Homo sapiens: one gene and its partners. The protein of the gene in region 2 purifies or fractionates together with the protein of the main gene of each other region. This does not show direct contact. Each region holds a gene or a part of one and is shown on either strand. Other genes may lie near its edges.

The links.
Region 1: the proteins of POTEG (region 2) and AP1S2 purify together in Homo sapiens (affinity purification with mass spectrometry; one large-scale study listed by BioGRID and IntAct). This does not show direct contact.
Region 3: the proteins of POTEG (region 2) and SCML2 purify together in Homo sapiens (affinity purification with mass spectrometry; one large-scale study listed by BioGRID and IntAct). This does not show direct contact.

Annotation. Positions count from the first base shown.
Region 1 is NC_000023.11:15,844,787-15,848,438, forward strand, and holds part of AP1S2 (AP-1 complex subunit sigma-2), read right to left. Parts: intron 1,226-3,652; coding exon 1,117-1,225; intron 731-1,116; coding exon 593-730; intron 1-592. UniProt on the Homo sapiens protein: Subunit of clathrin-associated adaptor protein complex 1 that plays a role in protein sorting in the late-Golgi/trans-Golgi network (TGN) and/or endosomes.
Region 2 is NC_000014.9:19,427,742-19,431,393, forward strand, and holds part of POTEG (POTE ankyrin domain family member G), read right to left. Parts: intron 1,249-3,652; coding exon 1,134-1,248; intron 975-1,133; coding exon 801-974; intron 1-800.
Region 3 is NC_000023.11:18,351,883-18,355,965, forward strand, and holds the start of SCML2 (sex comb on midleg-like protein 2), read right to left. Parts: upstream 2,807-4,083; 5' UTR 2,710-2,806; intron 2,395-2,709; exon of another isoform or gene 2,368-2,394; intron 1-2,367. UniProt on the Homo sapiens protein: Putative Polycomb group (PcG) protein. PcG proteins act by forming multiprotein complexes, which are required to maintain the transcriptionally repressive state of homeotic genes throughout development.

The DNA of each region.
Region 1 (3,652 bases), on a different chromosome or scaffold from region 2:
ACAGAACATGGTTTGTTATTTAAGAAGAGCAAAGAGAAATGCAAATACTGTTTAGTTTTGCTAACAAAAAAAACCTGGAAGTTTCTACAAAAAGTATAATTAGAAAACACTATCATTTGCTTGGCTACTTTTGCATTTAATGGACATGAGGTAAAAATATGAGCCAATTTGGAATTAAAATGTCATAATCTCATAGTCAACTCCTGATTATCTACACTAATGAAAAAGGGGGTTATCTTAAACAATTTGAAGCAATAGATGGAGAGTTCTCAACTTACTGCTACTTTCAGCCAATCTTTTCCCTTCTTCAAATAGTCTGTCCTCTAAAGGTTTAGACTCCAGTGTTTTAGGGTCCAAAAAGGGCCATTGGGAAGAGGCCTGACCGATAGACCATCTCCAAACTGAACCATCCATCCATAGATAACTGAGTTGACGTGACTGACACATATTCCAGTCAATAAACTGCACATGGATGGACACTACATGACAAGCATGCTTCAGAGTACTTTCTGAAACTGTAAGAATGATGAATGAGACTTCCCCAGCAAGAGCAAAACATGCTAGTGCCTAGTGAAGAGAATAAGTAGCTTACCTCCTGCAGTAGATCAGCCTGCTCAATTGCTTTAAGGACATTTTTCTTGGATGTTTCCTGAACTTCCCCTCCCAAAAGAAACTCATCCAAAATAAAATAAGCCTTCTCAAAATTAAAGATGATATCTAGTTCACAGACCTGAAAAGGAAAAAAAAAAGAAAAAAGAAAAGAAAAAATTGTTAAAACTTGCAGAAGCAGAAGATGCTTATTCACTATCAGGTAGTGAATAAAATCGAACTAGAGTGAATCAATCTTAACTCTTTCTAAAAATGACTAAGTATCACTGGTTTAAGTAAGCTTAATTTCCAAATCTCAAGTACTTGAAAACATATTCCTACAAGCTAAATAAGACTGGGCTCTGCATGTTCCCAATATGGACAACTTAATAATTTCTACTAATAAATAGTCATTCCCACCCTCTCCCGCGGTTAGAATCCCCAAGACAACCAAAAAATAAACTTGTTAGAGAAAAGGTTCCAAAATATACTATGGCATTCAATTTCCTAAAATAAAATACTACTCACACTGCCGAAATACTTGTCAAGTAATTCCACATAACGATGAATTATTTCCAGGGTAATTAGTTCATTGTCCTGATCCTCAATAGCACAGCAAAAATACAGACTAGCATATCTGTAACAAAGTACAAATGTGAAAAAAACTGTTATCCTATAATGATGTTTTCTAAATATATTTTCATATCCTATTATGAAAAGCCCCAAGTTTATACAGTTTATTTCTTCTTTCACGACAGTACAGATTTTTCTCATAGACTACAAAAGTAATAAACGCATAACAGAAATTTTGAAAAGCATAGGCAAGTATAAAGAAAAAATCAAAATAATCATACCACTTAGAATAAGTGATTTTGCCCTTCTTCCTTTCAGGTTCTTTTCTATAAGCATTTTAAAACATAGCAGACCCAGGTTTTTCCTAAGTTTACTTAATTAAAACAAAATATATAGCAGATTAATTCAAACTGTAAGTACAGAGAAGAAAACAAACCTTCCAACTGAAGGAGGACTTGTTGAGGATAATGCCAAGGTGAGGTCAATATTTTGGGATATTTTATTGGAATATGTATAATATATACACAGAGAAGACCTTAAGTCCTACAAGCTCAATAAATTTTCAAAGTGAACTCAACTATATATCAGCACCCACATCAAGAAGCTGAACACTACTGAACCCTGAAACTCCTCTGCTACCCTCTCCCAGTCACAACCTCCCACCCCCAAGGGTAACTATGCTCTTGACTTCTAACAGAATAGAATTGTTTTTAAAAAGGTTTCTAGGATTGCAGAATAAACCATACGAAAAGAACAACAGCTCCACGTTATTACAGAAGTTAGAGAAAGAGAACAGAAAGTTCCTATCACTTAAGGGAAACAGAGGCCTGTTCTCAAATTTACCAAGTTCTACACTGTTGAACTGAAGTGTAGTTTATTTACCCTAGAAGAGGGAATAAGGTTGGGAAACTTATATTCTCCTTCAAATTAGGATTCTAGCATATGGAATCATGTTATGCTTGACCCAAGGAAGCAAAACTTCAACCCTGAGGCATAGCAAGTCCTTTGAGGAGGATTAAAAGGGCATTTTAAAATGGTTTACATGTACTTAAGGCTTTTGAAAAGAAAGAAAATAAAAACCTAAGATAGGCTAAACACAGAACATTTCAGTGGAGATTATAATTTTCACTGAAGATCACTTAAATGATTTTTAGAAAACACAATGGGCAGTTACTGCTCGTAGCATTAATGTAAAATAATACTGTATACAGAATAACACAACCTGTTTTGAGACTCAATGAATTCTTGCTCCTTAGTATGAAAATAACTAGTATTCACACAACAGCATTAATTTCATTATTAAAACCATTTCATCTTATTTGATGTTTTCAACAGCAAGTACTATCTTTCATCCTTGATCACAGATTAAAAAAAGACAAAAAAAAAATGAGGCTTAAGAGTACAGCGCCTACAAGTGCTAGTACTGGGATAAGAAACCTGATCTTTTGACCTTAACTCCAGGCCTTTTTCCACTGTATCATACAAACTCACTTGGCATATATATCATGAGTTTGTGCATGTCTACTCTACCTGACTTCCACACTCAGTAAGTTATTTAAAATGGTGGAGCTACTGCAGTCTTATTGAGAGGAGGTATTCACATGTGTTCATTTATCATCATTGTGAAGGGAATAAGTCATGGAAGACAAAACAGGGCATCAATGCCAACTTTAACAAAGTGCTCCCTCTCTTTCCCATCGTTACTGTTTTTGTTTGTCTATTTAAAAGAGAATAGAGTATTCCAACTCTCCATCCTCCCTAACCCATGCTCATTAAATAGAACTTTGAATTTGAGGAAACTGATAAATGACACATAAGATTCCCTGATTTAAGAAAACTAAACATTAAAGGGACTGACATAAAAATGGTAGATTAAAAACCAGATATGACTAGCTGATAGGAACAGAATGCTAAATAATTTATTATACAAAGTTTACTAACAGTTTCAAGTAAAATTCCTTTTATTTAAGATTTCCTCATGCTACTATTAAACAAGCTAATGCTCGTACCATCCTCGCTCCTTATCCACAGTACTGCCTCTTTACTTACAAATAAAAAGCACTTAAACACTAGTCAAAGGTCCTAAACTGCATGAATCACTTGGAAGCATTAATTTAAAAATCATCAGAAACAATGTGTCTAAGCCCCAGCCAGTAATGTTTACTTTCACTCGGAATGGAAAAAGAATAATCAAATTAATGAATTCTTTGGTGTAGGTGAACAGATAGCTATCAGGATAATAATGTACCTCTTTCCAGAAAGCTTAGGGCAGGAAAAAAACAGAAACATAATAATTAAGTACCATTCACTGAATCCTCGCCCTACATGAGACATTAAATGTTAGCTAAGGCTTTTGCATATTTTACCACTCTAATCCTCACAACAACCGTATCCATGAGATACCATTATTATTTGCATTGATAAGAGACCCAGGTTTGAGTAACCTGCCTAGGAACAGCAATTTGACTCTAGAGCCCAAGTTTTACATTAA
Region 2 (3,652 bases):
TAATTACTTGATATTCCCCCTGCTCAAGGGTTTCCCCTTACATTACCCACCTATTCACTGCCAATCTGGTTCCTCAGAGGCCTCCTAAAATTCATCTCTAGGCAGTTTACAACCCACTAACTCCCTCTCCCAAACTGAAAACTGTCATTCTCTAAAATCAAAGAGAACTTTGTCTCACCATACAAAGGAAATAAATAAATGAACAACAACAACAACACCACACACACACAACCTCTTCATGGTCTTTTCCCTCTATTGCCTAATTTCCAAATTGGCCCTGATATTTCTGACTGCTCTCTTTTTCCCTTTCCACTTCTGCCTCATGAGCAATCAGAAATATCTTAAGCCTTGCCACTGAGAGGTGCATCACCTCGTATCTATTACTGTTTTTTAGGAACTTGCCAAAGAAGCAGGATCTCTATTCACTGAGACATGTTTAAGTTTTCTTGGAGTTTTCATGTAAAACCTATTTCAGGGCAAATTTTGCCATTTTACATTCATTAGGGGAAAAGAATCCTAGGAGGGAAAAACTGAAAAATAGTAAGTATTACCTTTTACAAATTCAGTGTTTTCAAAAAAAAGTATTTACCGCAAGTGCATTAAAAAAAAAAACTGTACCCTCTAATGCTTCTTTGAAAGTAACAATATTTAAAATAAAATCTTAGATAATTAGGTCATTTCAAAATATTTTCATTCAGGTTATGCTTGAGCTTCCAAATATGGAAAACTGGCCCTTACACAGGTCAATGTTAACACGAATGCATTTCAGTATTTTGAAGATAAAATTGGTAGATCTATACCTTGTTTTTTGATTCGATATCAGCACCGTATAAGAGCAGTGCTTTGGCCATTAATTTATCTTCATTGTAGATAGCATAGTGTAGAGCGGTATTTCCATACTCATCTGGAATATTCGGATCAGTGCCATGTTCCAGCAACATTAACGCACATTCATCTTCCCGGCATTGTACGGCCTGTCAGTATTACACCATAAACAAATTACAAATCCTAGGATTTCAAAATAACATTCCACAGCTTTCACCAACTAGTTATATTTAAAGGAGAAAACTCATTTTTATGCTATGTATTGAAATCAAACCCACTTCACGCTGACATAGTTGGCTACTGCATACCTTTGTCAGAGCTGTCCTCTTTTTGTTGTCAAGGATATTAAGTTGACATCGTCTGTCCAGCAGGAGTTTTACTACTTCTGAATTTCCATTGGCAGAGGCCAGATGTAGAGCAGTCCTATGAGGGTGAGAAGACTTTTTAGGAAATTGTAGTGCACTAGCTACAGCCATATCAATGACACACATAATCACAAACACTGAATAGCCTGCTATTACTGTGCCTTCAAAACAAACATTTAACTTTCCCATGAAAAAAGCACACGATTTATTATCTCTCATTACTCGCTGTATTAATGAAAGAGCAGCCTATATGAATACAAAGAGCATAGCCCTTGGATGACATTCAACTTGGGCTGGAATCCTACTTGAAGCTCTGTCACTTTCTGGCTGTTGCTTAGCCTTTTGGGGTCTCAGTTTCCTCATCAATAAAATAGGAATGAAAATAGTAGCTTTCTCACAGGAAACCACTGTAATGCTTAAATGAGACTCGGCACAAAAGATACAGAATAGTTCCTAACACAAATAACAGCTCAATAATTGTTAGATATTATGATTTTTACTAATACCACTAAAGACAACATTTGAATTAAGTGAGATGATACAATTATACCTACACTTTCAGGTGTGTTTTAAATATTACAGCTAACATTGTATTTTAGTGATTCTGAGATGATCATTGTCTCCATGTTGTCTCCACTGAAATACCACTTACAATTCATGATTTACTATAATTGGTGGCATTTAAATAATTCTCTTATTGAGACATAAAATAATGGGGCATCGTACAATCTCTGGTGCCTTACATTAAGTAGAATATGTTATAATGTAACAGGTCTGGGGCGGTTCCAGTCAGATGACCAGCATTTAAATTTTAGTTCTTAAAAGTACTATGGAATAAGAGAGCTGAAGTGAAAACAAAAACAAATTTCTAAAATAAACCAATTCTTACTTTGGTTTTCAATAAACTTTAAGCCAAACAAAACTTGGAATTGAAATGAATAGCATGGGCTCATTTTTTTCAATACTTAGATTTATACAATGTATGTACATCAGATATTTCCAATCATTCATATTAGGATTTAAGACTGTTATAAATTTTCTCTTTTTAAAATGGATTTATGAAACTATTTGTGGAGCTTTTTTCAACTTTTACATTCAGGGGTACATGTGCGGGATGTGCAGGTTTGTTACATAGGTAAACGTGCACCAACGGGGTTGGTTGTACAGATTATTTCATTACCCAGGTGTTAAGCCCAGTACCCGTTCATTCTATTTCCTGCTTCTTTCCCTCCTCCCACCCTCCACCCTCTGATAGGCCCCAGTGTGTGTTGCTTCCCTCTAGGTATCTGTGTGTTGACATCATTTAGCTCCCACCTATAAGTGAGAACATACAGTATTTGGTTTTCTCTTCCTATGTTAGTTTGCTAAGGATAATGGCTTTCAACACCATCCATGTTCCTGCAAAGGACAGGCTCTCGTTCCTTCTTTTATGGCTGCATAGTATTCCATGCTGTTTATGTACCACATTTTAGTTCTTAAAACAACTAAAACAGTCTTTATCCAAGACTTATACATTTTCAAAAGGGCAGTTAAGGGTTGTCTTTTACTATTTTCTACCTTCAGAAATGCTTCTGTTTGAAAGGAGGGAGGAGAAGCTTCAATTGAGATTAAGTCCTAATGCCCCAATTTTAAATCTCTCAGCTTGCTCAAGCCCAGCAGGCAAACATAAATGTTTTCAAAGATGGAAGGATCCTGAGAGATAGTAGAATATGCCTGCCCCATAATAGGCGTCTGGCTTATGTCTGATGACTAAACGGATTGAAAACAATGGATGAACACAGCTTGGGAGTTCAATATTTTTAAAGAAAACTCCTGTAGAGTAGGGCAATACATTTGCAATAGTAATATCATTTATATTTGCTATTTTAATTTTCATAAATATATAACTCAACTAAAATGATTAATTCATACTTTTTACATGTTAATCTATATATAATGAAAAGGTAATTATGTGATAAAATCTATATACAATAAAATCTACAGGAACAGGTAAACACAATCCCTCTACTTCTGAAGAGGGTAAAAGTTCACAGTAGATAGCCAACCACAGAAATAAAAATAAATAATAGAATGTGAGAAATTATTTGCATCTATGCAAGAAGCATATTCCTTCTCTTCCCAAGGATTATGTCATTACTAATGAACCTAAACTAAAAGTTCAGATGTTCATTGCAGAAATCACAGATAAAAGGAAAAACTTCATTTACAAATCCCCAGAAACAAGTTTGATTATATTTTCTACATATTTTCAGCTAACACAAGAGCAGATTCTGTTCGTGTATATGTGTAACAAACTGATTTTTTTCTCACTTGCTATAGCAAAGTACATCTTTGCATGTCGACATATCTCTATGTACTGACACCCTCAATAGTTACATATTATTCCGTCCTATGGATGCACTGAAATTTGTTCATGAAATCTTTATATGGGCTTTTCTAAATACACTGCTATTTTAAGCAAT
Region 3 (4,083 bases), on a different chromosome or scaffold from region 2:
TGGCTACATCAAGTTAATTCAAAAGACTTGGTATTTACTCAGCCTTTTCAAGGCACTTTACCATCATTAATTATTTCTCAGTGAAGCAGCAAAGGATTACCCTGACCATTTCACTGATGCGGAAACAGACACCAACAGCAAAGGGAACAGGGGCAGGAAGAGGGGTGATAGGAAGCATCTGGGAGGAACAGGCAGGCAGCTAAAAAGGAACAAGCCCAAAAGAAAATAAGAGTCACATCTGGCTTATAGCTGAGGATCATAACCCTTATTTGTTATTTCTGAGCTCAGAGATTTCTGCAACATTTTGAAAAAACAAAGTGCTTTAAAATACCAGTTAAAACTTAATTACAGCTTAAACTACTTAGTAATAGAAATTGCTTAGTATTAAAAAATACCCAATCTTCAGAGCACATATTGATTTCCATTTATACCAGCAACTCATTTTTCCCCTCAAGCTTAACCAGTATGTTATCTATTTGAACCAGAAAATAATCTCATGAAAATATATAGCTTTATATAATCCTAACCAAAAAATCACAAAGTTAACATCACGTAAGTCAGAAATAGTTTGCAGCTACACTCAGAATTTTGTTTGGAGAATTATGACAAAAATACTGACTTCTCGAGTTCGCCCTTTGAATGAAAGGAATACTTGTTCTACATTCGTATTGATTTTTTTAGCTATAACTCCCTGAAATTTTCAGGAATAAACTATGGGTGGAAAGCCTTAAACACCCTGAAATTAGCACACGTAGTGGGCTCTGAATAAACTGAACTCCATAGTAAAGACAGCACAGGTGCTTAATAAAGATGTGTTGATGGAATCATAAATCAAAAGGACTGATCAACCACCTCATGAGAAAAACTGATACACCTTTTTTAGACTGACTGTAATGATTTTTGAACGTTATGACACTATCAACTTTAAAGCACCCGCACATATAATGCAGTAGAGTTACAGTAATCTTTTTTCCAACTACCAATTCCAAAGCAAATCAGGTTCTCTGGGGTAAACAAGTATACATCCTTAAGAAGTTCATATGGCTGCATGATGTATATATAAAGTTCATTCAAAACTTTCAAAGCCAGTTTAAATGGTGTTTTTTCTTTACATTCTATCAAACTGTTTTAAAGGTTATAGATAAAGCTAAACACAAGGCATCAGGTGAATACTCATAAACTCAATCTTTTCTCAAAAATCCCACTGGATTCATTTCCAAAAGCTTATTTTCACATTCCTCCCATTAAATAGAAAAAAAAAAAAAAAACACACAAACAGCCTGAAAGCACATTCGTAATTGGAAATATTTTATTTAATGAGTAATTAAGAAAAATAAAAGAAAGGCAAAATCGTCATTATTGAAAAACATTTCCCTCGCTGTTATTGAAAAGAATTAAATATGCGTTTATGAACCATTGTTATAAAACAATTGCTCATCATAGGCAGCTGTACTCCATAAATGTTGTACATCTTAAAATACTTTTCCCTCAAAACAGAAATATGAATAGCTCTGGGGGCATTAAAATGTAGCAGCATCTGAAGCTGTTTTAGGGAAAAAAACAACTATCTCCAATACTTTTGTAAATCATATGATCATAAGCAACTTATTCACTTTCCCTGCCTCAGTTTACCCCCACTAATCGATCCATTAACTTTCCAGAGAAGACCTAAAGTAAGTCATAAACGTTAATCTCCTAATTTACAAACAAGAAGCAAATTTCAAGTTGCAATCACACTTTGTGATGCTTGACAAATGTTTAACAACCTCTTTTTAAAAAATAAATAGTCTCAAATGGGAGCCTGTAAGTAAATACTTGTGCTGCCCAAACATTTGGGGTTTGGGGGAGCCGAATTACAAGTCGGCCCAGGAAGCTATCTATGTACAACCTTGAGGCGCAAAATCGAGCAAATTCGCCTAGACCCATTCTCCCTCCGGCTCTTCACACCTGGATGGGGCGCAAGCACGATACAGGTGGAAAAAGCGAGAAAGGTAAGAAACCATTTCGAGACTGTTTCTAAGTGACGGCAGCAACTTTTTTTCGGTCAGGCCGCGAGGCCGCCTCTCCGCCCCTCAGGAGGCTTAGAGCCCCTCCTCGCCTCCCCGCCAGCCCCGGACGGGACGCGCATTCCGGTCCCGCTGCACCGCTAGGGTGAGCCACCGGCGCCCCCAGCCCCCGCCAGGAGCCCGGCGGCGCGCACCTTGGCACCAGGATTTGCGCCCGCACGCCGCCACAGGCGCATCCTTCCGGGCCGACGTTTCCCTCCCAAACTCCAAAAGTTATCTCAGCCCAGACCAGGCAAAGTCTACCTCCTTCCTCCGCCCCGCCACCCACCGTGATGCCCCCCAGGCCCCAGCCCGGCCCTACCCACGGCAGGGAGGATGCGCCGGAGGGCGCTGTCGGCGCTGCAGGCGAGGGGACGGGTGGAAGCTATCGGCCGGGCGCCCAAACCCCGCGGCGGCGAAAAGGCCCCGGGGCGGCGTGAGGGGAAACGCGAGATCGGCTGAAGGGCGTCCGCGGAAGGCGCCGGGGGCGGGATACCCTATCGCGAAGCCGAACTGAGATGGGACATAGGCGGGATCGTAAGGGGGCGTTCCTCGCACGGGACGCGCGCTGATGGCTTCTACCCGCCCGCCCACGGACAACGGTCGGGGTCCGGGACACACCTCCGCCTCTCCATTCCTTACGGGGCCCGGAATCACCACGTACCTCCAGTCTCGTCGGTGAAAACAACGAAATTCTGTCCCACCGATCGCGCGAGCCGGCACCGAGCTTCACACCGCCGCCGCCATGTTTGAGAAGCCGCGCGCGGAGCCGCGCATGCCCCGCAACCGCCACTGCCGCCCCGCCCCCCGCGCGGCCGGCCCGCGTGCCCTGCGGTTGCCGCGAGCACGCCCTTTGACCGCCGCCGCGTGCGGGGCCCGAGCCGGGGTCAAGCCGAGCGCCACCGCAGGCAGTGGCGGACCATGAGACACTGTGAGCCCGGGAAAGCCCTTGGCACTTTGCCTCCTACCCCCCACGCCTACGCCAAATGAAAAACCAGTCGCAGCCCAAGCACCCGAGGCCGTGGGGAGCCCCTCGATGGGACCCCGGGTTCCACGTCAAGTTCCATCCCGGGAACTCGCTCCCCTTCACTGTCGCCTTCGAATCCTGGCCACCACCCACCCTGGCCACGCACCCAAAAAGCAGGCGCTTCCCTCGGAACTCAAGCAAGTTCGAGGAGCAGGGAGAAGCAGCTGGTTACAGCAGCTTGAGGAAAGCCACTGCTTGGCGGGTTGCAGCATAGTCCTTGAAACTGCTTTTTTTTTTTTTTTCCATGAGTTTTTGCCACGCATTCACCTCCCAGCTTCACTCTCTGGATTTCGTTCTTCCTCTAAACCCGGGGTTGAGCTAACGGGAACTAGATGAACCCGCAGGGGGAAATCACTTGCTTACTGACTCAGGAGCATCCCCGAGAGTGCGTTTTGGGGTCCCTTCTGCACGCTCCCTTTCCCACCGGGCAAGGCCCATAGCGCAAGTGGAGGTCGCACAAAGGAGGGGGCGTAAAAACAGCTTTAAAACGACCAGTGAATCTCTCAGCACAAATTACAGCAAACAGAACGCCGGAGAAAAACATCTGTCCCTCGTTCTCAGGTTAGGTATAAGCTGATTTCAAACTTTTGTTTGAAAAATAATACAATGTGCTATGTTAGCCAAAAACAAACCATTGCTAGGGCTTCTCTCTCTGGAACTCTTTCCAAAGCTGGATGTAGGTTTTGCATCTGTGATCACCTAACTTAGTGCAGAGGGCATGATATACTTTTTAAATCATGATTTGGAAATCAGAGCTTAAAACTGAGAACAAAAAACTCCTGTGGAATATATCCATTGTCTACAACGCAGGATAGAATTTTCCAGTTGCAGCTTCTGCAGTATTAAGCAAAAGTCAAAGTGTTTATTATATCTAAACATTGGCAAGTGGCACAGAATCAAATGGATCTATTATTTAATGCTTTAAAAATGAAAACCTAAATGTTAATGCCAAATTCAAGTAAACTTTAAGGCGAAAATAGAAAGACTAGGTTGATGATATGCAAATATTAA